Homo sapiens: one gene and its partners. The protein of the gene in region 1 purifies or fractionates together with the protein of each later gene. This does not show direct contact. Each region holds a gene or a part of one and is shown in the gene's direction. Other genes may lie near its edges.

Region 1 (7,522 bases):
AACATGGTGAAACTCCGTCTCTACTAAAAATACAAAAATTAGCTGGGCGTGGTTGCGGGTGCCTGTAATCCCAGCTACTCAGGAGGCTGAGGCAGGAGAACTGCTTGAACCAGGGAGTCGGAGGTTACAGTGAGCTAAGATCGTGCCACTGCACTCCAGACTGGTGACAGAGTGAAACTCCGTCTCAAAAACAAAAAAAAAAAAAAGAAGGAAATTACCAAACTGTTTTCCAAGGTAGCTGTTTCATTTTGCATTCCCGCAAGTGATGTTTGATGTTCCAGTTGCTCCACATTCTGGTCAGCACTTGTCATTTTATTTTTAATGTTAGCTATTCTAATATGCGTTTAGTGAAAACCCATTTATGTTTTAATTTGAATTTTTCTTCTAACATATTGAGCGTCTTTTCCTGTGCTATTATTTGCCATCTGTGTATCTTCTTTGATTAAGTGTCTGCTGAAATCGTTTGTTCGTTTTTAATAGGGTTGTTTGTTATTGGTTTGCAAGTGTTTTATACAGTCTGGATACAAATTCATTATCGTATATATGTTCACAGCATTTCCTTCGAGTCTGAGTCTGTAGTTTGTCCTTTCATTTTCTTAACAGTATCTTTCAAAGAGCAGAAGTTTTAAATTTTGGTGAAGTCCAGTTTATCAGTTTTTTCTCTTATGATTTGTGCTTTTTTATCATGAGAAATTTTGCCTAATCCAACGTTGCAAAGATTTTTTTTCTTATGTTTTCTTCCAGAACTTTTATAGCTTTAAATTTTAGATTTAGGTCTGTGACCAATTTCGAGTTAATTTTTGCATATAGTGTGAGGTAGGGGTCAAGACTCTCTCTCTCTCTTTCTCTCTCTGTGTGTGTGTGTATGGATGCCCCAGTCTTGCAGCACCATCTCTTGAAAAAGACTATTCTTACTGTGTCCAGAATTGGTTCCTTCCAGTGGGTTCTTGGTCTTGCTGACCTCAAGAATGAAGGCACGGACCCTCGCAGTGAGTGTTACAGTTCTTGAAGATGGTGTGTCCGGAGTTTGTTCCTCCAGAAGTTCAGATGTGTCTGGAGTTTCTTCCTTCTGGTGGGTCCATGGTCTTGCCGACTTCAGGAGCAAAGCCACAGACCTTTGCAGTGAGTGATACAGCTCTTAAAGGTGGCGCATCCGAAATTGTTCATTCCTCCTGGTGGGTTTGTGGCCTTGCTGGCTTCAGGAGTGAAGCTGCATCCGAAATTGTTCATTCCTCCTGGTGGGTTTGTGGCCTTGCTGGCTTCAGGAGTGAAGCTGCAGACCTTTGCGGTGAGTGTTACAGCTCATAGAGGTGGCGTGTCCTGAGTTGTTTGTTCCTCCCAGTGGGTTTGTGGTCTCGCTGGCCTCAGGAGTGAAGCTGTAGACCTTTGTGGTGGGTGTTGCAGCTCATTGTTATAGCTCGTAAAGGTGGCGTGTCCGGAGTTGTTCGTTCTTCCTGGTGGGTTCGTGGTCTCGCTGGCTTCAGGAGTGAAGCTGCATACCTTCACTGTGAGTGTTACAGCTCATAAAGATAGTGCGGACCCAAAGAGTGAGCAGCAGCAAGATTTATTGCGAACAGTGAAAGAACAAAGCTTCCACAGCATGGAAGGGGACCCGAAGGGGTTGCTGCTGCTGGCTCGGGTGGCCTGCTTTTATTCCCTTATTTGGCCCCACTCACATCCTGCAGATTGGTCCATTTACAGAGAGCTGATTGGTCCATTTTACAGAGTGCTGATTGGTCCGTTTTACAGAGTGCTGATTGGTCCGTTTTGCCAGAGTGTTGATTGGTGCATTTACAAACCTTTAGCTAGACACAGAGCGCTGATTGGTGCATTTACAATCCTTTAGCTACACAGAAAAGTTCTCCAAGTCCCCTACCCGATTAGCTAGACACAGAGTGCTGATTGGTGCGTTTACAAACTGTTAGCTAGACACAGACTCTGATTGGTGCATTTACAATCCTTTAGCTAGATAGAAAAGTTCTCCAAGTCCCCACCTGACCCGGAAGTCCAGCCGGCTTCACCTCTCATTACTATCTTTTCTTCATTAAATTTCTTTGGCTTGCCTTGTTAAAAATCAGTTGAGTATGTTTGTGTGGTTTGCTTTGTGGACTCTATTTTGTTCCATTGTTCTGTGCGTCTGTTTGGCTAAAACCTCAGTCCTTATTATGGTAGCGTTATAGTGTATCTTGAAGTCAAAAAGCCTGAGTCCTCCAACTTTGTTGTTGTTTGCCAAAAATTTTTGAGTATTCGAGTTCTTTTTCTTTCCATGTACATTTTAGAATCTCTTTATTTCTATATAAAAGCATTGTGGAATTTTTAGTATGATTGCATTGAAGTTATGGATCCATTTGGGGAGAATTGACATCTTAAAAATGTTGTTTTCTAATCCATTAATAAAATACCTTTCCTGTCCCACTGCTATGGCTCATGCTTGTAATCCCAGCACTTTGGGAGGTCAAGGTGGGAGGATCGCTTGAGCCCAGGAGTTCAAGAGCAGCTTGGACAACATGGCAAAACCGCATCTCTACAAAAATGAGAAAAATTAGCTGGGTGTGTTGCCATGCACCTGTAGTCCCTGATACTTGGAAGGCTGAGGTGGGAGGATTGATTGAGCCTGGGAGGTAGAGGCTGCAGTGAGTTGTGATCATGCCACTGCACTCTAGCCTCTGCAACAGAGAGAGCCTCTTTCAAGAGAGAAAACAAAATGAAACAACCTTTCTACGTTTATTTGGTCTTTGATTTCTCTCTGTTTTTAAGCTTTCCGCATAAAAATGTTGCGCATATTTTGTTATGTTTGTATCTAAATGTTTTATGTTGTTTGGTTCTGTTGTAAACAGTAACCTTTAAAAATTTTTAAATTTCCAATTACTTATGTAAGTGAATCAGTATTTTAATATTGATCTTGAATTTTTGAATTTTACAACCTTGTTAAACTCACGAGTTCGTTCTAGTAGCTTTTGTAGCTACTGCTGTCTGCTGGTAGAGACAGCTTTATTTCACATTTTCTCATTTGTTTGCCTTTTATTTTGTTTTCTTGTCTCTTTGCACTGGCTAGGACCTTTGCTAATGTTAACTAGAACAAGTCAGATCAGCACAGATATCCTTGCATTGCTCTTCATCTTAGTAGAGAAGGTATACAGTCTTTTACCATTGAGTAGTTAGCTGTAAGTTTTTTGTGGATATCATTTTGACCCAGCCAAGGAAGTTCTCTTTAACTCCTGCTTAGAGCTTTAAAATTTAATCACAAGTGAATGTTATATTGCTTTTTTTGATTGTGAACATGATAGTTGATTACAGTAGAAAGTTGGAAATAAAGGAAGACTATAAAAAAAGTTACCCTATTTTCAGTAATCTGAGGTAACTGCTGCAAACATTGTGGTGGCTTTTCTTTCAGTCTTTTCTTTTGCAAATATATTTTAAAAACAAAATTGTTAATATTGTTTTATATTTTGCCCTTTTCACTCAGAATCACATTGGGAGTACTTGCATCATGAATTATTTTGAAAACTTGATTTGTAATGGTTATGGGTTATTGTGTTATATGGATATGCCCATCATTTAATGATTTTCTTATTGTTAAATAGTAAAATTGTATTTCAGTTTTCCCTGTTGAAATTAACATTAAATATTTGTGCTTAACTCTGATAATTTTTCAAAGTAATTTATAAAAATATGATTATCACTCAAAGTATATACATTTTTTTTTCAGGTTCTTATATCCACTGCCTCTGTTTGGTGCTCTTGAAATTTGTTCTTTAGGCTATTTATTGTAAGAAATTTGGGGTCAGTATCATTGGCTTTTTGGGCATCACCTTAAGGTAGAATCTTTGAATTTCAGAAACAGAGTTCCTTAGAAATCGGTCTAGTTCAAACCGTTTTTTAAGCGGTTTAGAGTCTGTAATCATTAAATAACTTTTCTGCCTATACTATTTTGTTTCCACTGATCTATACAGAATTACTGATGAATTACGTATAATGTAATATACCACCTGTGCTCTTCTTTTGATAAGAATTATAGAAATCTTTGTGCCTAGCTTCATGTAAAACCCTTTATGTATGTTGTTTTATTGAATTCCAACTGCTACTTTTTGGTAGTAACATTTTTTTCCATTTCATAGACAAAGGAAACTGTCTCCAAGTGAGCAAACTTACCTAAGGTTGTATTAATAGTAAGTGGTAGAGCTTGAGTTTGTTCACAAGTCTTCCTGAATCTGTGCTTTTATTTGTAGGCTATACTATGAGTATTATGTTATTTTAGGTATTTTGTATATATTATGTTTATTTTGAATATATTAATTTTAATGCTAACAATAAATTTACTAAGCAGATTAGCAAATTAGCATGAGATGTTATCAGTACTTCTGAAATGTTTGTCCAAATTTATATCCTCTTAAGTCTATTCTTATTTTCTAAGTGGCGTAAAGATTATTGTTGGCTATATGCCATACAATTTTACTTAAATAATTAGGATCATATTTACTGTGACTAGTAGAGGATACAACAATTTATTTATTTTGAAATGTGAAGAATTTTGTAATTATAGGTTTAATAAATGGAGATAAAAAATAATGTTAATTACTTTATAAAATGAGCTCTGTTATAATTCTGGTAAAACAATTTGTTTTCCTTAGAAGGATATGTACATTTTGGTATTTACATTTCAACATGGACTATGTGAATGAAATAATTAGTTTGTGAAGTATGAAATCACTTTTTCCTTGTATTCAGAGAAGGTTGGCTTTTCTGTGTCTACCACCTCCTATGTTTTTTATTATATTCAGCCCTGTGGTTAAAGAGTAGGTCTACATAGTCATTTTAAAAAGCTGCTTACATTTTATATTATGAGAATTCAGAACTTCTGCAATTGTAGTAAAGACAGTGCTGCAGTGTTATGCAAGATCCATTAATCTATGAATATGCTTCACTGACAGATGGGCTTATATGAATATTATTTAAAAACTACATGCTTAGACATCAGTAAAAGATAGTGATTAAAGATGAGATTAAGTATCATTTTAATTACGAATTTTATACAGACAACTTAAAATTAGGTTAGACCTTTTGCTTAGTTTGCCAAAATTGGGCATGAAAAACAAAATAAGCCTGTGAAAGCTGAATGACATTAAATGGGCCACCCTGAATCAGAAGACAAGTGGCAATGAATACCTATTTTCCATTTTGCTGAATGAGAAGAATGTTTAATAAATGGTGATAGTTTTCATGAGATATTTAGATATTTTAAGTTTTATCTCTTGTTGGTTATGCAGAAGAGATTTATTTCTCTTTTTATTCAGTCTAGCAATTTCTGACTTATGAGTGGAGTGTTGAATCCATTTACAATTAATGTATTTACTAATGCTTAAGGTAGTATTTATGTCTGTCATTTTGCTATTTTTTCTGTATATCAAGTAATTTTTTTCATTCCTTAATTACTACATTATTGCTTTCTCTGCCTTTTTTTGTATTAAGTATATATTTTCTAATGTACCATTTTAATTTCCTTGATGTTTCTCTTTTTTTTTTTTTAAGAGACAGAATCGCCTAAGCTGAAGTGTAGTGGCGCCATCATAGCTCACTGCAGCCTCCAGCTCCTTGGCTCAAGTGATTCTCCTGCCTGAGCCTCCCTAGTAGCTAGGACTACAGGTGTGTGCCACGATGCTTGGATAATTTTTTTATTTTTTGTAGAGACAGGTTCTTACTCTGTTGCCTGAGCTGGTCTTGAACTCCTGGCCGCAAGTGATCCTCTTACCTTGGCCTTCCAAGTGCTGGGAATACAGTTGTGAGCCACTGCACCCGGCCTTGACGTTTCTTTTACTAAATATTTTTTGAGTTCTCAGTGGTTGCCCTGGGACTTACAAATAGTACCTTATTTTATAACAATCTATATTAATTAATACTAACTAAGTTTAAGTTTACAAATTTTGTTCCTATATATTCCCTCCCCTTCCTTCATGCTATTATTGTGTAAGTTACATCTTTCTACATTAATACAGTATCCATTAACACTGATTTATAATTCTTGATTTATGCAGCTGTCTTTTCAATCACATAGGAGAAAAGAGCCACAACCAAACATACATTTATATTTTCTTTTATATTTACCTATGTAGTTATCTTTACCAGTGTTCTTAATTTCTTTATGTAGATTCAAGTATACTGTCTCTTGTCCTTTCAGTTCAGCCTGAGAGACCCAGGTTAGTATTTCTCATAGATAAGATGTGCTAGCATACATTCTCTTTGGTTTTGTTTATCTGAGAAAGTCATAATTTCTTCATATTCAAAGAATAGTTTTGCTAGAATTAGAATTCTTAGTTGGCAGTCTTTTTCTTTTAGGAATTTGAATGTATCTTTCCACTGCCTCTGGCCTCCGTGGTTTTTAGTGAGAAATCAGATAGGAAATCTTTTTGACGATTCCCTATTTTTGATGAGTTGCTTCTCTCTTGTTGCTTTCAGTATTCTCTCTTTATGTTTCGAAAGTTTGGTTATGATGTGTTACAGTGTGGATCTCTTGAATTTTATCCTACTTTGAGTTTATTGAGCTTCTTAGATGTATAGATTAATGCTTTTCATCAAATTAGAGAAGTTTCCTTGTATCGTTTCTTCAAATATTCTTTCTGTTCCTTCCTTTTTCTCCTCTTTTTCTGGTTCTCTCATTATGCATATGTTGGTATGCTTGATGGTTTCCTATAGGTCTTTGATGCTCTGTTTATTTTTCTTCATTCTTTTTTCATTCTGTTCCTTAGCCTGGATAATCTCAATTGACCTATCTTCAAGTTCACTGATTTTTGTGCCAGCTCAAATGTGCAGTTGAACTCTTCTAGTGAATTTTTTTTTTTTTTTGAGTGGTAGCTTTTCTATGTTTCTTTTTATTTATTTATTTATTTATTTTTATTGATTATTCTTGGGTGTTTCTCGCAGAGGGGGATTTGGCAGGGTCATAGGACAATAGTGGAGGGAAGGTCAGCAGATAAACAAGTGAACAAAGGTCTCTGGTTTTCCTAGGCAGAGGACCCTGCGGCCTTCCGCAGTGTTTGTGTCCCTGGGTACTTGAGATTAGGGAGTGGTGATGACTCTTAACGAGCATGCTGCCTTCAAGCATCTGTTTAACAAAGCACATCTTGCACCGCCCTTAATCCATTTAACCCTGAGTGGACACAGCACATGATTCAGAGAGCACAGGGTTGGGGGTAAGGTCACAGATCAACAGGATAAGAATTTTTCTTAGTACAGAACAAAATGAAAAGTCTCCCATGTCTACCTCTTTCTACACAGACACAGCAACCATCCGATTTCTCAATCTTTTCCCCACCTTTCCCCCCTTTCTATTCCACAAAACCGCCATTGTCATCATGGCCTGTTCTCAATGAGCTGTTGGGTACACCTCCCAGACGGGGTGGTGGCCGGGCAGAGGGGCTCCTCACTTCCCAGTAGGGGCGGCTGGGCAGAGGCGCCCCTCACCTCCCAGACAGGGCGGCTGGCCGGGCGGGGGGCTGACCCCGCCACCTCCCTTCCGGACGGGGCG
Region 2 (7,522 bases), on another chromosome or scaffold:
ACTTTCAAGCTGCACTTTGACCCTTCTTAGGGTTGTTATAGTAAAGGCCCTCATTTAACATTTCATTGTTTGGTTCATGCTTGAATTTGGTTTTTCATGTAATTAAAATTTGATCATGTTGTTCATCTTGAGGATTTTTTTTCTTTTTAAAATATTTGTTAATGTGATAGGAAGGCAAATATGCTATTCAACAACTACATCTTGGTTGCACAGTGGTTCCTTAGGTCTTTGTTTTGATAGCTTGTCATGTTTATATTTTATTAAAATATTCTGGGTACAGATTAACTTATTTGCTTTGTGTTTAAGTATTCTATTTGCTTGAAAGTAGGCACTGCTGAGGTTGTCATAGCTAGCTTAGAACATCTTGGATTTCGTTTGTTCTAGTGAGATGATTTTTGGGTAGCTTCCATAATGGAGCACAGTTGGAGTGTGTCTCAAGTGCATTTCTTTCATTGTTAATGGAAAAAGAGCATGATTGTCACATGGCCCCTAAATCACAGCCTTTGGCTCATCTGTGCTGATTCTGTACCAACTTGTCCTGGCACAAACTAATTCTAACATAGCTGTTTTGGTTAAGCGGGTGGAATGTGCAGGGTGTCTTTTTGAATGTGTGCCTTAAAGTGGCATGTGTTTTCCTTATGTTATTTGAGTCCTATTCAGAATGACAAAGCATAACTTGTCTTCTCGTCTTTTGTGCTTAAGAACATCTTACCAAATAGCGTCTTATTAATCAAGCAACAGCAAGAAAATTTGAGAAGTGATTTTGACTGGCTGCTGTGGCCAGATGTAGAAATCAGATCTTTTAATACTTGCTCTAGTACCCAGTTGTCTTAAATTAAACAACGAAAATATCTTGGGATTGCTGTTTTTGGTGCTAGCTGGCATTCTGTGATTCCAGGGCAAATCTAATGGAAAAATACAGTAGTCATGTTTTTGATTGCTTTGGAACAGTTAAAAAGAAAAGTTACAGGAACAAAGAGAGGAAGGATGTTAAGAAATGAAAGGCTAGGGGAAAATGTTCCATTAACCTCCTCATAGTTTTTTAAAAGTTACAGTTCATTGCTCCAGAAATTTGAGTAAATAAGTGCCATTAAAGTTGCATAAAGAAAATTGGCCATTTTCTCTTTTCTGTCTTTCAGGGCATTCGGGATATGTTAAACTTCAGTGTGTTATTGACTAGATAAATGATCCGCATAAAGTCCTTTTGCCTTAAAGGAACTTTTTTTTTTTTTTTTGGCCATTGTCACTTCAGGGTATCTTACTGGTAAACCCTTAAACCCCTTGTTAGATCTTCAGAGCTACATAAAATTAGATCTCAATTTTTTGAGGTTGTCTTCATTATTTTACCATTAACTAGTTGCCCTAGAACTGCAATGAGCTAATTGATGTCCTGTCCTGTCCTGTCCTCCCCTTCCCTCCCGCCCCCTTCCGGGACAGAGTCTCACCCTGTCGCCCAGGCTGGAGTGCATTGGCATGATCTCGGCTCACTGCAACCTCCGCCTCCCAGGTTCAAGCGATTCTCCTGCCTCAGCCTCCACTGAGTAGCTGGATTACAGGTGCTTGCCACCACACCCGGCTAATTTTTTGTATCCTTAGTAGAGATGGGGTTTCACCATGTTGGACAGGCTGGTCTCCAGCTCTTGACCTCGTGATCCGCCTGTCTCGGCCTCCCAAAGAGTTGGGATTACAGGCATGAGACATCACGCCCAGACTCTTTTTTTTCTTAAGACATAATCTCACTCTGTCGCCCAGGCTGGAGTGCAGTGGTGTGATCTCACCTCACCGCAGCCTCCGCCTCCCTGGTTCCAGCTATTCTCGTGCCTCAGCCTTGCCAGTGGCTGGGTCTACAGCGGGGGTGCCACCACGCCTGTTTAATTTTTGTATTTTTAGTGGAGACGGGGATTCACCATGTTGGCCAGGCTGGTCTCGAACTCCTGCTCCTGACCTCAAACAGTCCTCACGCCTTGGCCTTCCAAAGTGCTGAGAGCCAGGCGCCTGGCTCTATGTCTTTTTTTGGGGGGTATGGAGTCTTGTTCTGTTGCCTAGGCTGGAGTGCAGCGGTGTGATCTGGGCTTACTGAAGCATCCACCTCCTGGTTTCAAGCAGTTCTCCTGCCTCAGCCTCTCAAGTAGCTGGGACTACAGGCATGCCCCACCACGCCCACCTAATTTTGTGTGTTTATTTTTAGAAGAGAAGGTTTCACTGTGTTGGCCAGGCTGATCTCCAACTCCTGATCTCAAGTGATCCGCCTGCCTTGGCCTCCCAAAGTGCTGGGATTACAGGCATAAGCCACTGCGCCTGACTCCTATGTCTTTTATTTCTAGGTGTGTCCCGTATCAGTAGAACCTGACTTTGACAATAACTTGGAATTTGAAGAGGAGGAGAATTATGTGAAGTGAGGCTGTTGTCTGACTGAAATTCCTAATTGTAGGGATGGTTTCATTTAAGTAATTTTGGAGCCTTACACCAAGCTCCATGCTGAGGGCAGGACCCCTAGATGAACCAAATGTTGTTTCACTTACTTTGTTTTCATGGTTTGTTTGCTTTCAGTTTCTATAGCTTTCGGTCCAGCCTTTTTCAGATATTGAAATGATTTTCGTTTTGGAGAAAGAAAGGCATGGTCTCTCTTTTCTTGATCCTTTTTCTAATCTGCTGATTTTACTATTTTGGGAATAATCTCTTTTGTCCTTCTGTCCTCTCTTAAGTCTCTTAAGATGTGAAGGTTTAGCCACCCATCCCATCCAAACAAGATTGGGCACAGCAGCCTAAAGAGATGTGTCATGAGAGGTTTTCCTTTTCTCCACATATATGTTAGTGAATGACTTTGTGCTCCTGTATGTTAATTGGGTCTTGTCATGTTAGCATTTAGAAGTTCAGACCCTTCAGGGATTCCTAAACCTTGGGAAAAAATAACTTGATCATTTACATTTTCGTGAAGCAGTCTTGCTCTATCATTCATACTGTGTCTCCACAAGACATTTCCGTCCCTTTTCATAATTTTAGTCAAAGCCACCTAGTAACCTTTAATTATATAGGAGAGCTTGATTAAGCAGTGGGTCAGATGCTCTGAACCACCTTGATTCTTAGAAGGTCATGAAAAAATGTTGCCTATAGTTAATAATTTTCTTAAAACTTTATTAACTATGTAATTATTTTATGAGCCTCTGATGTTTTAGTACGACATTCCACCAGTGGAAACATGCTCCCCTTTATTATGTGGCAAGAATGATAATTCGGGCCAGGTGTTGTGGCATGTGCCTGTACTTGGGAGGCTGGAGGATCACTTGAGCCCAGGAATTTGAGGCCAGCTTGGGCAATGAAGAAAAAAATTTTTTTTAAAGAATGACACTCAAGAGTTGTGCTTAGTTATTGTTGAAGGATGCTTTATAGACCTCAAAAATGCTGTAATCGATGCCCTATGGTGCCTGATTGTTCTCTGAGCAAATCTAGCTATGGTTTTGCTTTTGCTCTTCTTCTGCAACATCTAAATGCCTATCCTAAGGTTCCTTCTCTGTTTCTCTATGGTTTTGCAGCTGGTCAGGGTTCTTGGTTGTAACAAAGAAACTGGTCTTGGTTAATTTAAGCCAAAAAGGAATTAATCAAAACGGTATTAGGTCACTCAGTATTGACAAGGCCAGGGTACAGGTTGACCAAGACCTGCAGCAGGAATAATCTACTTAGAGCAGTGTTGCTGGCATTCTTTCCCCCAGATTGGTTGTACTCCTGGACTCCCAGCTCCCTCAAGATCCTGTGCCTTTGTGTTATCTTCAAGATGCAAAGCCCCTTCTAGAAGTCTCTAACCTCACTTAAATTAGGAGCTGTGCTTTAACTGCTTGTGGGCGGGAGGGGGGCTGCATTCACCTATTTGGGTTCTTTCCAAATAGAAAGGGATTTCAGGCAGTCAAAATGACAAATATTCCCCTATATAAATATTTTCATCCAAGTCCAAAGCTTAAAATTCAGCAAATTCAATTTTAGAACTAATAGGACTTCAAGAAATAACGTCCTCACTTTAAAGGTAAAATAAAATAAGATCACACAGCTGGTCAGCTGTAGAGCCAGGACTAGAACACAAATCTTTAGACTTACCATTATTTTGAATTGCTCTAAACTTTTAATCTTGGATTGACACTATACCTTTGAATTTTTGGCTTTTGCAGCAATATATTAATGCAATATATATATATTTTTGAGACAGTTTCACTCTCACCCAGGCTGGAGTGCAGTGGCACGATCTCAACTCACTGCAACCTCCATCTCCTGGGTTCAACAGATTCTTGTGCCTCAGCCTGCTGAGTAGCTGGGATTACAGGCGCAGGCCACCATGCCTGGCTAATTTTTTTTTGTAGTGCTGGGATTACAGGTGTGAGCCGTTGCACCTGGCCAATTTTTTTTTTTTTTTAAGAGTCTTACTCTGTTGCCAGGCTGGAGTGCAGTGGCATGATTTTGGCTCGCTACAGTCCCGACCTCCAGGGCTCAGGTGATTCTCCCACCTCTGCCTCCTCAGTAGCTGGGACTACAGCTGCATGCCACTACGCCCAGCTATTTGTTGTGTAATTTTTTTTTTTTTTTTTTAGAGGTGGAGTTTTGCATGTTGCCCAGGCTGGTCTTGAAGTCCTGGGCTCAAGTGATCTGCTCACCTTAGCCTCCCAAAATGCTGAGGATTATAGGCGTGAACCACTGCCCCAGGCCTTAATGCAATCTTTTAATAAAAATTTGGATTACTGAGGCCTATTTTCATTTTATTATTTCTTGATTTACTAAATTTATTCATGTAATGTATGTAATGTTTACCAGGACATGTAATGTTTACCAGGACATGCTAGGAGCTGGAACTACAAATATGAAAAAGACTGATTCTGGGCTATTAAGGAATTTATAGTTTAGTAAGGAAAGCAGATATAAAGATAGATTAATTATAGTGTAATATGCCTGTGTAAAGGAATAAAAATCAGTGTGTATGGTTAACTCTGCCTAGCAGTTACCTTTGTGGTTTTTTGAAGCTTGAAGGGTGAAAAGGCATTTCAGACAGTGTAGCAGTAATTTGGGTCTTCTTCAGTCTTGAATTGCAATAGAGTGTATAAGACAGCCAGCCAGCAATTTTTGTTTCTTATCTGTAACCTTTCTTTAAATGTTGCAGGGGGTAGGGTGAGGTGGAGGGCACGGAGAAGCTGGGTATGGTAGCACACGCCTATTGTGCCAGCTACTTGGGAGGCTGAAGTGAAAGGATCTCTTAAGCCCAGGAATTTGAGGCCAGTTTCGGCGACATAGTGAGACTTTGTCTCAAAAAAGAAGAGGTTATGGGAAAAATACAAGCCAAGTTTTAAAAAATTATTATTATAAAATGTTTCAGATATATAAAAAAGGTTTAAATAATAACACGAGCGTTGCAAGTACAGCTATGTTAAGAAATAAGATATTACAAGTATACTTAGGGTTCCTCTGTACCTTTTTCCAGTTGTATTCTTATTTTTCCCCAAGATGTCACCATTATCCCAATTTGTTGTATATAATTCCCTATGTTTTTATACATATGTATATACCCCTGAATGATACATAGTGATACATAGTACAATATATGGTGGTGTTTTTCATGTTTTAAAACTTTTTGCAGCCGGTGAGTCCCGCCTGGAATCCCAGCACTTTGGGAGGCCCAGGCTAGTGGATCACTTGAGGCCAGGAGTTCAACACCAGCCTGGGCAACATGGTGCAACCCCATCTCTACTAAAAATACAGAAAACAAATTAGCTGCATGTGGTGGTGCTTGTCTGTAGTCCCAGCTACTTGGGAAGCTGAAGTGGGAGAATCACCTGAGCTTGGGGAGTTAAGGCTGTAGTGAGCTGTGATTATGCCACTGCACTCTAGCCTGGGCTCAGAACAAACAAAAAAAAACCACACAACTTTTCGCAGTCCTGAACAAAATACTAACAAACTGAACTCAGCAATATATGAAATGGATTATATGCCATGAAAAGTAGGATTTATTTAAGGAACGGCAAGGTCGGTTCTTCATACAAAAATCAATTTATTACACCATATTAATAGAAAAAAGGACAAAAACTGCGTGATCATCTGAATAAACACAAAAAGTATTTGACAAATTCCAGCCTCCTTTTGTGATTAAAAAAGAAAACACTCAGCAGACTGGGAATAGAAGGAAATTTCTTGCAGCTGATAAAAGGCATCTACAAAAAACATAGCTAACAGTGTAGTTAATGGCAAAAGACTTAGTGCTTTTCTCCTAAGATCAGGAACAAGATGAGGATTCTGCTCTCACCATTTCTGTTCAACATTGTACTGGAGGTCATAACCAATGAAATCAGGCAACATAAGGAAATGAAAGTCATTTAGATTGGAAAGAAGAAATAAAACTATCTCTATTTGCAGCTGACATGATCTTATATTTAGAAAATAGTAAGGAATCTACAGAAAGCAATTAGAGCTGATAAATGAGTTCATCAAGTTTGCAGGATACAAGATCAATACACGGAAGTCATGTTTATGTACACTAACAATGAATCTGAAAATAAAATTAACAATTTCATTTACAGTAGCATAAAAGGAATAAATACATACGAATAAATTAACAAGTGTACAACTAAAACTGTAACACTAAAAACAACAAAACATCATTGGAAGAAATTTAAAAAGACATAAGTGAAAGACATCCCGTGTTCATGGATTAGATTAGAACACTTAATATTGCTAAGATGGCAATACCACTTAAAGTGATCTACAAATTCAGTGTAGTCTTTATCAAAATCCTAGGCAGTTCTGCAGAAATTGGCAAGCCACTTCTGATAGTCATATGGAAATGAAAGGAACTCAGAATAGCAAAAACAGTCTTGAAAAAAGAGAACAAAGTTTGGAGGACTCACTGTTCCCAATTTCAAAACTTATTACAAAGCTACAGTAATGACATTGTGGTACTGGCATAAGGATAGACATCTAGATTGTTAGAATAAAATTGAGAGTCTAGAAATAAACCTTTACATTTTTGGTCAGTTTTCAACAAGGATGCCAGGATAGTTCACTGGGGAAGGAATAGGCTTTTCGACAAATGACACTGGGTCACCTGGAGAAGCAGATGCAAAAGAATGAGTTTAGACTCCTACCTCATTATCATACACAAACATTAACTTGAAATGGGGTAAAGACCTAATGTAAGCTAAAATTCTAAAACTCTTAGAAGAAAATATAGGCATAAGTTCTTATGACCTTGGATTAGGCAGTGGTTTCTTGGCTATAACACCAAAAACAAGCAATCAAAGAAAAAATAAACATCAAAATTAAAAACTTTTATGCATGAAAGGATACTATCAAGACTAGTATAAGCACATGAAAAGGTTAGGGAAATACCAGTCAAGACGCAATGAGATACCATTTCACACCCACTAAGTTGGCTGGAATAACAAAGATGGACAATAACAAGTGGGGCAATTGGAACCAAGGATGTGGAGCAGTTAGAATCCTCAAACATTGCTGATGTGAATATAAAATAGTGTAATTGTTTGGAAAACAT
Region 3 (7,406 bases), on another chromosome or scaffold:
TCCCACACATGTACCTGGGAAGCCCTCCAGCTCCTCTCCACCCATCAGGGCTCCACTGGATCCTGCCTCCTCCAGGAAGGCTTCTCTGCCTCCTGCTCCTCCAGGAAGGCTTCTCTGCCTCCTGCTCCTCTACAAAACACTCTGGATGCTTGAGCAGTAGGAAGCCTGCCAGTCTCCTCTCAGGCCCCCAGGCAGGGAGGAGGCCACATACCATCTCAGTAAAGTGTCTCCCTATATGGGGGCTACTTACCCTGGTGAGTAGCCTGCAAGAAGATTGTAGGTGGGACCCCGACAGGACTTTAGATAAACAGTCACAATGCAAAAAAAGTCATTTACACATCTTTTTCAATCTTGGTTGTGTCCAGCAAAAGCCTCAGCTTAGAGCTAAACTGTTTCTTTTGTTTTTTGTTTGTTTGTTTGTTTGTCTGAGACAGAGCCTCACTCTGTCGCCAGGCTGGAGTGCAGTGGCGCAATCTCGGCTCACTGCAACCTCTGCCTCCCAGGTTCAAGCTATTCTCCTGCCTCAGCCTCCCAAGTAGCTGGGACTACAGGTGCACACCACCACGCCCAGCGAATTTTTGTATTTTTAGTAGAGATGAGGTTTCACCATGTTGGCCAGGATGGTCTCGATCTCTTGACAAGTCAAGTGATCCGCTCACCTTTGCCTCCCAAAGTGCTGGGATTACAGGTGTGAGCCACTGTGCCCCGCCGAGGGCTAAATTGTTTTAACCCCTCTCTAACACAGACTATGTCCCTTATTTTTCCCCATTTTTCAATCTTTTATTAGACTTCAAAACAGGACGTCTGACTTTTAAATGTTTTATTGTGGTAAGATATATATATATATACACGCACACACACATACATATATGTAACAAAAGCTACCATTTTAAGCATTTTTAAGTGTAGATTCAGACCAGGTGGGTTGGCTCGCACCTATAATCCCAACACTTTGGACAAAGCCCTAGTGGTAGGACTACTTGAGCCCAGGAGTTCGAGACCAGCCTGGGAAACATAGCAGACCCTGCCTCTATAAAAAAAAAAAAAATTTAGTTGGTCATGGTAACGTGCCCCTGTAGATCCACCTACTCAGGAGGCTGAGGTGGGAGGACCGCTTGAGCCCAGGAGGTCGAGGCTGCAGAGAGTTGTGTTCGAACCATTGCACTCCAGCCTGGGTGACAGAGTGAGACCCTGTCTCAAAAAAAAAAAAAAAAGGGGTACAGTGCAATGGCATTATCTACCTTTACACTGTCATGCAAACATCACCACATCCCATGTCCAAAACATTTTTCATATTCTCAAACTGAAACTCCATACCCATGAAACAGAACTTCCTGTTCTCTACTCCCCCAAGCCCTTAGCAATCACCGTTCTATTTTCTGTCTCTTGAATTTGACCACTCTAAGTGCCTCATCTTAGTAGAATCATACAGTCTTTGTCCTTGCGTGACTGGCTCATTTCACTTAGCATGACGTCTTCAAGGTTCCTCCGTGTTGTAGTGTGTCAGACTCTCATTCCTTTTAAAGGTTGAATCACATTCCACTATGTGTATAATACATATTACATTTTGTTCATTCATCTGTTGATGGACACTTCAGTTACTTCCACCTTTCAGCTATTGTGAATAATGCTACAATCAACATGGGTGTAGAAATGATGCCCCTTCTTAACAAAGAGAACGTTTCTAGCTAGACTTTACTAACGTTGTTTTATTTGCATACTATTTATTTTTATGATCTTTTTCTATTTGTGGCAAGTTATACAAATTTTCTATTTACCTAGCTATATGAAATAGGCTTTAAGATACAAGTAGGTCCTACAAAGTGAAATGATTTAAAGAAAAATGCTAGGTAAATAAGGGCATGTGTTAGTGGCAAAAAGTGGTGGCAGTAATACAGGAAAACAGAACTGCTGAAGTGTGGGAAATATTGACACACGCCTCAAAAACCTGACTGTCCTGAACTGAGTGGGACAGGCTGCCAGAGAGAAACCCTGCCGAGACCACTGGGGAGGTTGACGCCAGATTAGCCTTGCATTCAGAGAGGCGCCTGGGGGTGTTGTTCTAGAAAGAGAACTATGGTAAAATTGAAACAGTCAGATCTGGGATCTGACATCTCATAGGGTGACCCCGGGCCAGTTACTCGAGACGATCCTCTGGCCTCTGCCTCCCAAGTTAGCTGGGGCTACAGGAGCGTACCATCACACCTGTCTAAACTTTTTATCTTTTTGTAGAGACAGAGTGTCCCTATGTTCCCACGCTGGTCTTGAACTCCCGGCCTCAGGCGATCCTCCCGCTTTGGCTTCCCAAAGCACTGGGATTACAAGTGTGAGCCGCCGTGCCCAGTCCAGTCATTTCTGATCTTCACTTTTCTCATTATGAGAGGGTGGTAATAACACCCAGCCCCTAGGTAACTAAGATAACATCATGCGAGCTGCCAAAACCTGTGGCCAGCACCTACTTTGGTTCTACGATCGGGTGGGTCACGTCACCCCACCCTAGCCCCTGCAAAAGACATCCTCAGGACAATATTTACTGCTTCTTCCTAAGGAGAGAAGGCCTGATAGTGATGAGGTTATAGCTGGAGTTCAGGTGCACCATCAACTCAGTCTCCACCACCTTCCCCAGCCCCATTTCCACCTCCAAAAACTCTGGGCAAGACCTCTGGGCTCTTGATCCAAGGCTGTTACTGGCTGTAGGACCTTGTGCAAGTCTGAGCCAAGAGCCTCTCTGAGCCTTCATTTCCTCAGCTGTAAAATGTGGATGCCCTTGTCCTCTGAGTACTCAAACCCCACATACATCTCCTATCTATCTCTGGCTGGTGAACAGACGCTTTCAACATTCAGCCACGCATAACAAATACAAAGCAAATGAATCGACAAGTGAAACTGCCAGTCTTGCAACGTATGGGATTTCATGAAGTTGGTGGAAGCAAAGCAGGAGAAATGGAACAGCCGCTGCCCACAGAGAAAGGGAACGTCTGCAAGGGAAGTGACCCAGACCCGAAAAAAGGCACTGGACTATCAAAGGATTCAGAGTGATCCTTGAGTTTGAGGAAGCTCTCAAATATTTTTGCAAAAATGAATCTCTTACTGCAAAAACCAGTTCAGAAGGGAAGGATGCTACATACTCAACTATTACAAGAAAAAGCAAGACTTCCAGTGTTAACATCTGATTCATTCTTGGTTCATTTTAAGGCGTGCGTGGTTGCAATCATAATCTAAACTCCGTTAATCACGGGGTAAAACTAATTTATCTTCGTAATATTTAGCTTCTTTTTCTAGGTAAAATCCCAATCAGGCCAGGTTTTCCCCACCATCTTGGTGAATTGTTGGTCTTCTTTTAAATAGATTCACCTCGGGGGCCTTCCAGGGTACAGGATGTAGTGGGGAGTCCTCCAGACGCCTGTCCCGGCTTTCCAGTCAAGACCACAAACATCCTACCCCCAATAGAGAGAAAGCCCCAAAACAGCTGGGCGTCCCCGAAGGCGAAGTACCGTAATTCCCCAGGGCCTGCCAACCACCATCGCAATGCAGAGAAAAGTCTCCGCCCGCCGGGCCGAGTGCTCCCCGCGCCCCCCACCTCTTAACAAGCGCAAGGTTGCTTTCGTCAACCCTTCTGTTGTACAGAAAGAGAAACTGAGGCCCGATGGGCACAGACTTGTTGGCCCACTTCCACTCGGTGGCAGAGCTGGCCCAGGGAAAAATGCAGGTAACAACAGTGAAGACTTGGTAAGCTCGCTCCACGTGCCGAGCTGGGACCCGCGGTGGCCGTTTCTGCTGGGGGCGCCTAGTACGTAGTTGGCGCTGAGGAAACCTGAACCAAGAAAGCCGAGCCCCCCCGCAACTCTCGGCCCCTCACGGGGGTGGGGCCTCCGTTGGGGTACGGCCCGCTCTGCAGCAGAGCCCACCGCCCCGGCCCGCACCCCTCGCCCCGAAGTTAGGCTGGAGCCCCCACCCCAGCAGCTCGGTGGGCCGGGGTCACAGCGGGGCCGCAGCCTGCGACCGCTTCGGGGGCCCCGCCGCTCCCCCTGCTTCCCCTCCCCCCGGGAGGGAGGAGGAGACTCCGCGGCCCTCCCTCGGCCCCTCCGGCGGCGGTCGCAGCTGCACGGTGCCCGCTCTACCCCGCCGCAGCGGCTGGGACGTACGGAGCCCGCAAGTCCCGGCCCGAGGTGAGCGGGGGCGGCAGGCCGGGGGGCGGCAGGCCAAGGCGGCCCGGGAACTTGCTCCAGGCCGCGCGCCTTCCGCGGGAAGGAAGGGGTTAAGTTGTGGGGCGTGCTGGAGGAGCAGACACAGTCGGGGCGCCCGCGGCAACCCCCGAACTCAGAGCAGAACTTTCTAGACGCCTCCCCGGCCTCCCTCAGCCCCCGGAACCCCAGGTCTCCGGTGGGGAGGGGCCGCGGGGTGATGGGGGAGGGGAGGCGCCTCCGGAATGCCGCGGCCCGGGCCGGACGGGAGGGGGCGGCGGGCGGGGACGGAATTTGGGACTCTCCCGGGGGACCCAACGTGGTCGCCATGGCGAATGCGGGATGGACGGGCGGCGCTGGCCAATCAGAGCACGGCGCCCTGCCCAGAGCCGCGGCGACTGCCAATGGGGGCCATGCGGTGGGGTGGGCGGGACCGCGCGGCGCGGGCCGGGAACCCCCTCCACCCTCCGCCCGTCGCTAGGTGGAGCGGGGCGGTTCGCAGGGCCAGCGGCTTGGGAGGGGTCGACTAAGTGAGGACTAAGGCGACGCAGGGCTGGGGCTTCAGTTTCAGTACCTTAGGTGGGGGTGGTGTCCACCTTCCCACCCCCGCTCTCCCAGGGCTCTTGTGGGGGTTGGATTGGTTTGGGTTCGGGAGGTCTGCCCACCTGTTAGAGCGTTCAGGAATCTTTTTAGTGCCTCTCCCCATCCTGTAGGTAAGGAAACTGAGGCCCAGAGAGGGCAGGGACTTGCAGATATCACACAGCATATCAGTGATGGAGCTGGGACTAGCGGGATGTCTGCTGTACAAGAGTGAAGAGTTCACGGTGTTGCCGAGAGGGGTGGGGCTGGGGTCGGGGTGGGGCTGGGTCCCCATGAAGGTTCACCCCACCATTCCAGCTGTGCGTATCCACTTGGCCTGGTGCCTGCAGACCCCATCGTGTAGGTGCTCTCGGGGGCATTGTGCCCCTCAGGTGGCTAAGATCCAGAAGAGGAGGCATCCCATCACCAGCTCCCTACTCTGGCCTTGCTGCTGGTCCGCGGTGTGGACACAGACACGTAGCTGTCCCTCTGGGCCTCAGTTGGTCCATATGTAAAGAAAGGAGTTCAAATCAATGATCCAGGCTGTCTCTGTGGCTCCTCAGTCTAAGATGGGGCTACCTGGGAATAGGCCAGGGGTGCCTACCCCTGGGCTTAGGTCCAGCCTGGAGGCCTAGCCGCCATCCCTTCCTTTCCCGCCAGCCAGCTCCCCCCAGAGGTCCTGCAGCTGGATCCTGGGCAGCAGGTCACAGGGACAGGTGCCCGCAGTCTGTGGGCTGACCAGCCTTGGGCCCTGCACTTATTCAATCAGGCTGTCCTCTGTGGTTTCCCACTGGGCTCTGCTTTCTGTCCACAGCCAGGCCTGTGGCCATGGGCTTGTCCCAGGGCCCTACCTGAAAGGCTCTGGGAGGATCTACAGGGTTTCAGAGCCGGGGAAGGGGTTGGGGCACTGGGCTCCCCATCCCTTCAGCTGGCCCCTGTCCAGGCCTTGGCATTGCTCATTCCTCTCACTGATATGGAGAGACCCATCCAAACATGCTGAGGACAAAACACAACGCTGTTCCCAGTGGGTCAATTAGGCTTCCCCAGGTAAAAGGTGGGACAGCCGACTTGGCCGTGAGATGACCTCTTATTCCAACCCTGGCCAGACAGGCTCAGATACCTACCTGTCTCAGAGCCTGGCCACCGACTGACTCCTGATCTTTAGGATGACTCAACCTTCCCAAACTCTGCATGGTCACAAGGGTACCCCTAAGAGTGGTACCACCTTCTTAGGGGTACCTTCCATCCATCACGCATCTGCTGTATGCTGGGCCCTGTGCTGATGCCCTCGCTCGTGGACTTCAAAGTAAGGCCTTTGCTGTAGAACACGGAGGTGCCTGGTGCTTTGGGAGCATACTCTGTGCAGAGAGGTTAGAGAAGGCTTCCTAGGGGAGGGGACACTGGAGGTGGGTTTTGAAGGATGTGTAGGAGTTTGCTGATGAAGGAAGGAGAGATATTCCAGACAAGTCCACAAGCAACAGGAACCACTGGGTCACTTTCTGTGGGCAGGGCTGATGAGGGCCTAGCCTGCAGCAAGTGTCAGCTCAAAATATTCTTGTTTCTGTCCTGGAGTGAGCTACCAGTGAGCACAGCTGTGGGGCTGGGGTTCAGGAGCCCTGATGGAAGCTCTAAGTGGCACAAGTGTCCCATCTGGATGAGGGAAGCCTGTACTGCCAGAAGAGAGATGGCAGCTTGCCAGGCTTGGCTGTGGGAGGTTGTAGGGCTGTGGTCCCCAGGTGGGGGTGGGGTTGGGGAGATCAAGGCATTTCCTGGAGTTGGTGGCAGCTGAACTTGAAGATGGGTGGGGGTTTTGGAGTCTGGGACATGGGCATTTGGAATACAAACCCAGAGACTTAAAGCAGTAATAGACCTGTCTGGCTGTTGGGAGGCAGGACAACGAAGGGTGGGGTAGGAAAGGCTCCCCGGGGCCTGTGGTGGCCGGTCCCACCGTGACCTGCCCCTTGGTGGGGCAGTATGCCAAGGGAACAGGAGGCCACGCCCCACGCACATAGACACCCCATGGCAAGAGGGCATTGAGCCTGGTGGAAGGGGCGGGCAGGGCAGCTGGGGCATCTCCACGACTGTAAGCCATGCTCTGCGCTGCTGCTGCCCCTCAGTGAGTGTGTGCGTTACCAGGGCTGTGTGTGAGTGTGCACGTTACTGGGGCTGCGTGTGAGTCTGTGCATTACCGGGGCTGTATGTGTGTGTGTGCACGTTACTGGGGCTGTGTGTGAGTGCAGGTCCCTCGGGCCATGTGTGAGTGTGAGTGTTACTGGGGCTGTGTGTGAGTGCGGGTCCCTGGGGCCATGTGTGAGTGTGCGCGTTACTGGGGCTGTGTGTGAGTGCAGGTCCCTGGGGGTGTGTGTGTGAGTGTGTGCATTACTGGGGCTGTGTGTGAGTGCGGGTCCCTGGGGGTGTGTGTGTGAATGTGTGCATTACTGGGGCTGTATGTGAGTGTGTGTCCCCAGGGCTGTGCTGTATGAGTGGGGCAGGGTAGGGGGAGGCGTTGCAAGGCAGGGTCTGGCTGCCCTTGGGTCTATGTGGGAGTGCAGGATTCCTGGTGTGCTGGGGGCGGGGTGGGCTTCTCCAGAAAACTCCCCTGAGGACCCCGACCCCCACCCCTTCCCACACACCCGCTCCAGG
Region 4 (7,522 bases), on another chromosome or scaffold:
TCGTTATCTAGCATTAGGTATATCTCCCAATGCTATCCCTCCCCCCTCCCCCCACCCCACAACAGTCCCCAGAGTGTGATGTTCCCCTTCCTGTGTCCATGTGTTCTCATTGTTCAATTCCCACCTATGAGTGAGAATATGCGGTGTTTGGTTTTTTGTTCTTGTGAGAGTTTACTGAGAATGATGGTTTCCAATTTCATCCATGTCCCTACAAAGGACATGAACTCACCATTTTTTATGGCTGCATAGTATTCCATGGTGTATATGTGCCACATTTTCTTAATCCAGTCTATCATTGTTGGACATTTGGGTTGGTTCCAAGTCTTTGCTATTGTGAATAATGCCACAATAAATATATGTGTGCATGTGTCTTTAGAGCAGCATGATTTATAATCCTTTGGGTATATACCCAGTAATGGGATGGCTGGGTCAAATGGTATTTCTAGTTCTAGATCCCTGAGGAATCGCCACACTGACTTCCACAATGGTTGAACTAGTTTACAGTCCCACCAACAGTGTAAAAGTGTTCCTATTTCTCCACATTCTCTCCAGCACCTGCTGTTTCCTGACTTTTTAATGATTGCCATTCTAACTGGTGTGAAATGGTATCTCATTGTGGTTTTGATTTGCGTTTCTCTGATGGCCAGTGATGGTGAGCATTTTTTCATGTGTTTTTTGGCTGCATAAATGTCTTCTTTTGAGAAGTGTCTGTTCATGTCCTTTGCCTACTTTTTGATGGGGTTGTTTGTTTTTTTCTTGTAAATTTGTTTGAGTTCATTGCAGATTCTGGATATTAGCCCTTTGTCAGATGAGTAGGTTGCAAAAATTTTCTCCCATTCTGTAGGTTGCCTGTTCACTCTGATGGTAGTTTCTTTTGCTGTGCAGAAGCTGTTTAGTTTAATTAGATCCCATTTGTCAATTTTGGCTTTTGTTGCCATTGCTTTTGGTGTTTTAGACATGAAGTCCTTGCCCATGCCTATGTCCTGAATGGTAATGCCTAGGTTTTCTTCTAGGGTTTTTATGGTTTTAGGTCTAACGTTTAAGTCTTTAATCCATCTTGAGTTGATTTTTGTATAAGGTGTAAGGAAGGGATCCAGTTTCAGCTTTCTACATATGGCTAGCCAGTTTTCCCAGCACCATTTATTAAATAGGGAATCCTTTCCCCATTGCTTGTTTTTCTCAGGTTTGTCAAAGATCAGATAGTTGTAGATATGCGGCGTTATTTCTGAGGGCTCTGTTCTGTTCCATTGATCTATATCTCTGTTTTGGTACCAGTACCATGCTGTTTTGGTTACTGTAGCCTTGTAGTATAGTTTGAAGTCAGGCAGTGTGATGCCTCCAGCTTTGTTCTTTTGGCTTAGGATTGACTTGGCGATGCGGGCTCTTTTTTGGTTCCATATGAACTTTAAAATAGTTTTTCCAATTCTGTGAAGAAAGTCATTGGTAGCTTGATGGGGATGGCATTGAATCTGTAAATTACCTTGGGCAGTATGGCCATTTTCACGATATTGATTCTTCCTACCCATGAGCATGGAATGTTCTTCCATTTGTTTGTATCCTCTTTTATTTCCTTGAGCAGTGGTTTGTAGTTCTCCTTGAAGAGGTCCTTCACATCCCTTGTAAGCTGGATTCCTAGGTATTTTATTCTCTTTGAAGCAATTGTGAATGGGAGTTCACTCATGATTTGGCTCTCTGTTTGTCTGTTGTTAGTGTATAAGAATGCTTGTGATTTTTGTACATTGATTTTGTATCCTGAGACTTTGCTGAAGTTGCTTATCAGCTTAAGGAGATTTTGGGCTGAGACGATGGGGTTTTCTAGATATACAATCATGTCATCTGCAAACAGGGACAATTTGACTTCCTCTTTTCCTAATTGAATACCCTTTATTTCCTTCTCCTGCCTAATTGCCCTGGCCAGAACTTCCAACACTATGTTGAATAGGAGTGGTGAGAGAGGGCATCCCTATCTTGTGCCAGTTTTCAAAGGGAATGCTTCCAGTTTTTGTCCATTCAGTATGATATTGGCTGTGGGTTTGTCATAGATAGCTCTTATTATTTTGAGATATGTCCTATCAATACCTAATTTATTGAGAGTTTTTAGCATGAAGGGTTGTTGAATTTTGTCAAAGGCCTTTTCTGCATCTATTGAGATAATCATGTGGTTTTTGTCTTTGGTTCTGTTTATGTGCTGGATTACATGATAATAACTCTTTTAATGGAAGATTTTAAAAAGGAAGCAATTGTTTGTGAACAAATTTTGGTAACGATTAGAGGATATTAATTAGTTTACTGTCTGATTATTTTAAAATCTTGACACTAGGAAAAAATGAAACTAGATATATTTTTATTTTGGCTGTGTCTTTAAATTTTTATAGTTTTATTTATAAATAATTTTTCTTTGCCATGAATTTTAACCAATACAGAAGTGTTAGGTAAAAATTAAAAATGTTTTCCAGCTGTCATTCTATACCCCAGAGGATACACAGCTAACAGTTTGGCGTGTATCCTTGTAGAGTTTTTTTATGCATGTAGCAACACAGAAGGCTCTCCCCCATGCCACCCCACCCTCAGCCAACACTCATGGGTTACTGCTATGTACACTGTACAATAACTTACTTTCTTCTCACCACTAATGCAGGGACATTTCTGGGACACCCTGGGGAAGAAAGAAGGTGATAAACAGTTCTGTGTCCTTTTAAACATGCTAATGGAAGACTTCCTTCCTAGTAAGAAAAGTCCTTATTTATGGAGTGATTCTTACAGGATGTACCTGGTTCTCTAGGATTGCTTATTGATGACAAACTAGGCATCTATACATTCTAAGGCATAGAGAATGTCATATAAGCTGTGTAACTTTCTGCACATAAAATGGGAATGTTTCATGACCAAATCAACTCCTTCCGTGTAAGTGGTGTGATCACACATGTTGTTTGGGCAGGACTTCTCTTGGGGGAAAGGAAGGACCTCAGAAGTTTTGGCTTCTCTCTGGCTTACCTGTGCCTTGGAATTACTTGTTTTCTCGAAAGTTTGATTAAAGTTCAACACGCCAAGTTTTGTGAGTCTGAAATGCAATCCAAACCTTTGTGATTTCTCAATAAGTATTAAGATTATTTTTTATTTCCTTCTATTTGAAGTTCAGTTTGCTGGCTTTGATTTGCTTTTGCTTTAGCAATTTAGAATTCTTGAATAGGAATTCTATATCAAAGGGTGTAGCATATGATTGTCATTTAATGTTATCTGAATGAAAGGATATGACCCATTTTCTCAAAGAAAACATATTCAGTTATTTAGGAGTTATACTCTTGCTTTTTTCTCCTTCAAAATAAAAATGACTTTATTATTTAATTTCTTTCTGATTATTAAAGGTGATACAAAAAAATTAAAAAGCAAAAAGGTATAGGAAATTCATACTTTCCTAAATCCTACAATATATTTAAAGATAAACTATTATTTTTTCAGAAATCTCTATTGTGTGTATACAGAATATATGTAGTTATACATATACACATACACATATCTTTGTAAGTATATGGACACAGTTCTCTCTAAATGCTTTCATACTGCATATGTTGCTCAGGAACATTTTTCACTTGAAAGGATATCAATAAATACAGCTTTCTATGGTTTTATGAATATTATGCAGTTACCTATTCATGGATATTTAAGTTTCTTCAAAATTTTTAATAGCATGTTAACAGTGGAGGCTCACATAAAGAGAAATAAAGGATTAGCTACCAGGCACCTGAGATTTCTTCATTTCCTATAGTGGCATGTAGACATATCTGAATTTCTTGATATTTATTCCAAAGAGAAAAGATCATCTAAAGAGCTCTCATCTCAGAAAATGTGACCTTTTTTAAATTGTGGTAAGAATACTTAACATGAGATCTACCCTCTTAACAAATTTTTAAATGTACAATATGGTGTTGTTAACTATAGACACTGTTGTACAGAAGATCTCTAAAACAGATTCATCTTGTAAAGCTGTAACTTTATACCTATTGAATAGCAATTCATTTCTCCTTCCCCCCATCTCCTAGCAACCACCATTCTACTCTCTGTTTCTGAGTTTAACTATTTTAGATATGTCATGTTAATGGAATCATCCATTATTTATTCTTCTGTGCCTGGCTTATTTCACTTAGCATGTCTTCCAGATTGATCATATTGTCACATGACAAAATATCCTTCTTCTCAAAGGCTGAATGGTATTTCATTGTATGATATTCATTCAATGATATTTCATTTCATTTTCTTTATCAATACATCAGTCAATGGACATTTAGGTTGTTTCTGTATCTTGGCGGTTGTGAGTACTGCTGCAGTGAACATGGGAGTGCAGATAATCTTTTTGAGATCCCAGTTTCAGTTATTTTGGATATATGCCCAGAAGTGGGATTGTTAGATCATATGGTAGTTCTATTTTTAATTTTTTGAGGAGCCTCCATACTGTTTTTCATCACTGCTATACTATTTTACATTCTTAACCAATGACTAATTTTCATAATCAGTGAATTCTTATAAACAGAATATTATATGTCAGAAAGGAAAAATTTACATAGCAAATACCTTTACATTTAGATTTTTCTGTTTAAATGTTCTGCCTACTTAATGTTCACCCATACTTTTGACATTGACTGTAGTGTAAATATTATTACTCTTAATGTAGTTTTCCACTGTACATTTTGTTTTGAAATGTCATAGAGAAATAAATGGGCTTTCCTGTTATGACTGAGTAACTTTCTTTGAGCTTATGGGGAGTTGTCCAATGTTAACATTTTATAAATATAATTTTACATAATTCATCTTATTCCAGGAATATTTAAATATTCAAGTTTATTCAAAACTTGCATTTTATAAAACAAGATAAACTTACAGTAGGTTAACATTTCTCTATAAAGAGCACTTTTCCAAAGTGCAGTTTGGTAAAAAGTTAGATGGGGACATGACATTACAAATCTTCCCCCAGCTTCCCTGGCCCTTATTATTCTCCTTTCTCACTTTATTTTTCCCTAAAGTATTTATCACCATCTCCATTTCATGATACATTTTTTCCTTTCTTTTCTTTTCTTGACTTTTTTCTCTTCTTCCTTCTTCACTTCTTTTCTCTTTCCCTTACTTTCTCTTTTTCTTTTCTTTCCCCTTTTTCCTTCTTTTCTTTTGTAGTTTGTGTCTCCTTGCTCCCCTGTCATATAGGCTCTGTGAGGTCAGGGATTTTAATTTATTTTGTTCGCTGCTGTATTTCCAGTGCTTGAAACAATACTAGCACAGAGTAGATTCCTGGTAAATATTTGTTGAATAAATTAATGTTGTTCCGGCTTAGTCTAGTAATAACTTTTTAGAATATCTATAAGTATATGAACTGAGTTTCTTCAGCTAATTTACATATTGCTTTTTCAGTCTGTTTCACCAGCTGTTGAACAGCAATAAGTGTGGGATGATAACCCCTGATAAGAATCTATAGTAGACTTTTATGTTTTGAATTTAGAGTGGAGCCATATGCCTTAAGACTTAGGCTAGAGATATTTTCTTTTATCCAATGGAAAAATTAAAGAGCATAAAAGGGAGATACTGTAATCATCCCTTCAAGGTAAGCCAGAATCTTCTCAGGAAATAATACTGCATAACCAGTTGAATTGAGGCTGCAAAACAACTCTCATTATCCTGGAAATTCTTAGAGCAAACACAGCCAGAAGTAGCTAATTTCAGTCATTGAAAATGTCACAAATGTACCCATAGAGCATCTAACTTTAAATAGCATACCTATCTGTGTAGTTTCCAGGAAAAATTCATTGCAAAAGATATTACTAGATGAAAGTGAGTAACTTACCGTATTTTGACAGTTGGGAATGATATAATTGAATTTTAAGAAACTTACCGGTTCTTGTGACTCAGTTGAGAGTAGTACATTTTATTATCATAAAGAGACATTTGTAGTGGAAACATTAGTGTCAGTGCAGTTTGACTATTCATGCTAGTATTTATTTAATTTCTTTTGGGAAAAACTACAATGAAATGATTGAAAGTCATGACTGTGGAGTTAAGTGACCTGCGTTCATGTTCCAGTTCTGCCACTTACTGGCTGGTTACCTTGGCTAGGTACCTTTAGCCTTGGTCTCCTCAGCTTAATATTGGGATAGTATTAGTGGCCTACTTTATAAGGATGTTTTGAGGATTGGATGAAACAATGCACAGTGCCTGACTCATAGTAATTACTCCAAAAGTTAGCTGTCAGTGTTATTAATATTAACATTTACTTGTTTACCTTGTTTAGAATTGTATTCCCATTGGAGAGCAGCTTCAGTCGGTGTTGGGCAATTCTGGATACAAGCATATGATTGGACTACAATCCTCATCTACCTTAGGAACCTTAAACAAGTCGTCCTCCACACCTTTTCCTTTTAGAACTGGATTGACATCTGGGAACGTGACTGAAAACTTACAAACTTACATTGATAAAAGTACACAACTGCCTGGTGGAGAGAATTCTACCAAGCTTGATGAGTGTAAAGTTATGCCTCAAAACCATTCCTTTCTTGAAAATGATCTTAAAAATGCAATGGCCTCTTTCTTACCAAAGAAAGTAAGTGACAACTCAAATATACCCAACTCCGAGTTGCTGCCTTTTCTCCAGAATTTATGTAGTCAAGTTAATCATCTCCATGTGGGAAATAAGACCGAGTGTCAGGAAAACATCACCAAGCATGGTGAACGCATTCTTGGTGTTGGGTAAGTATTATTTTAAGACATACGAGTTTCGATTTGGTAGGTGGAAGAATCAGATGAAAGGAAACAGATTTGTCTCAATGAGTACTGCCTAAAATTTGTTTCCAGAGAAAATTTTAGCAACTTTTACATTTTACCATTAATACACTTAAAGGGGATAACTGCAGAGTAGAATGGATTACTTTGAAAGAAGTCCCTATAACTGGAGGTTTTGCACACTTCCCAGGCATTTTGTGGAAGGGTCACAAGTATTAGTTCACAGTTGGAATAGAAAGTGATTTGCATGAATGGAAAGGAGCTGTGGGAATTATAATCTTTATGTTGTTTTTATATATTTGTACTATTTTGTGCCTGGGTATGTTAAGCATGTCATTGTGACATTTTCCTTGAAGATTATGTTTGGTCTAGGCAAATTCCTGATTATTAAAAAACTATATTAGGATAATAATCACTTGTAGTTTACAAGCTATTATCCCCAGTCTCTTAATCCCTTATTTTGGCAGTACATATTTGATTAAGAGATAGCTAAGTATTATGTTCCTAATTGCTTAAGTAGATATAGTATGTCAAAATGGTGTTCTAGACTAGAATTCAGGACTCTAGGTGTGGTTTTGGCTTAAACATGTTGCCACACTGTTTAGTATTCTTTAGCCTAAGAGATTTTATTTGAAAATGAGGTAGTTGGATGATTTTGTAACTAAACGCCACCACCAACCAACAGGATTGAGTTGACATTTATAGAGAACTCTACCAACAATAGCAGAATATACACTTTTTTCAAGCATCTATGGAAGAT

Evidence for each region.
Region 2: the proteins of CCDC91 (region 1) and STARD7 purify together in Homo sapiens (affinity purification with mass spectrometry; 2 studies listed by BioGRID and IntAct, with this or other methods). This does not show direct contact.
Region 3: the proteins of CCDC91 (region 1) and CCDC102A purify together in Homo sapiens (affinity purification with mass spectrometry; 2 studies listed by BioGRID and IntAct, with this or other methods). This does not show direct contact.
Region 4: the proteins of CCDC91 (region 1) and C10orf88 purify together in Homo sapiens (affinity purification with mass spectrometry; 2 studies listed by BioGRID and IntAct, with this or other methods). This does not show direct contact.

What each region holds. Positions count from the first base shown.
Region 1 is NC_000012.12:28,193,414-28,200,935, forward strand, and holds part of CCDC91 (coiled-coil domain-containing protein 91), read left to right. Parts: intron 1-5,529; exon of another isoform or gene 5,530-5,643; intron 5,644-7,522. UniProt on the Homo sapiens protein: Involved in the regulation of membrane traffic through the trans-Golgi network (TGN). Functions in close cooperation with the GGAs in the sorting of hydrolases to lysosomes.
Region 2 is NC_000002.12:96,198,463-96,205,984, reverse strand, and holds part of STARD7 (stAR-related lipid transfer protein 7, mitochondrial isoform 1 precursor), read left to right. Parts: intron 1-7,522. UniProt on the Homo sapiens protein: May play a protective role in mucosal tissues by preventing exaggerated allergic responses.
Region 3 is NC_000016.10:57,533,263-57,540,668, reverse strand, and holds the start of CCDC102A (coiled-coil domain-containing protein 102A), read left to right. Parts: upstream 1-4,097; 5' UTR 4,098-4,169; intron 4,170-7,406.
Region 4 is NC_000010.11:122,936,912-122,944,433, reverse strand, and holds part of C10orf88 (ATPase PAAT), read left to right. Parts: intron 1-6,274; coding exon 6,275-6,729; intron 6,730-7,522. UniProt on the Homo sapiens protein: ATPase that regulates mitochondrial ABC transporters ABCB7, ABCB8/MITOSUR and ABCB10. Regulates mitochondrial ferric concentration and heme biosynthesis and plays a role in the maintenance of mitochondrial homeostasis and cell survival.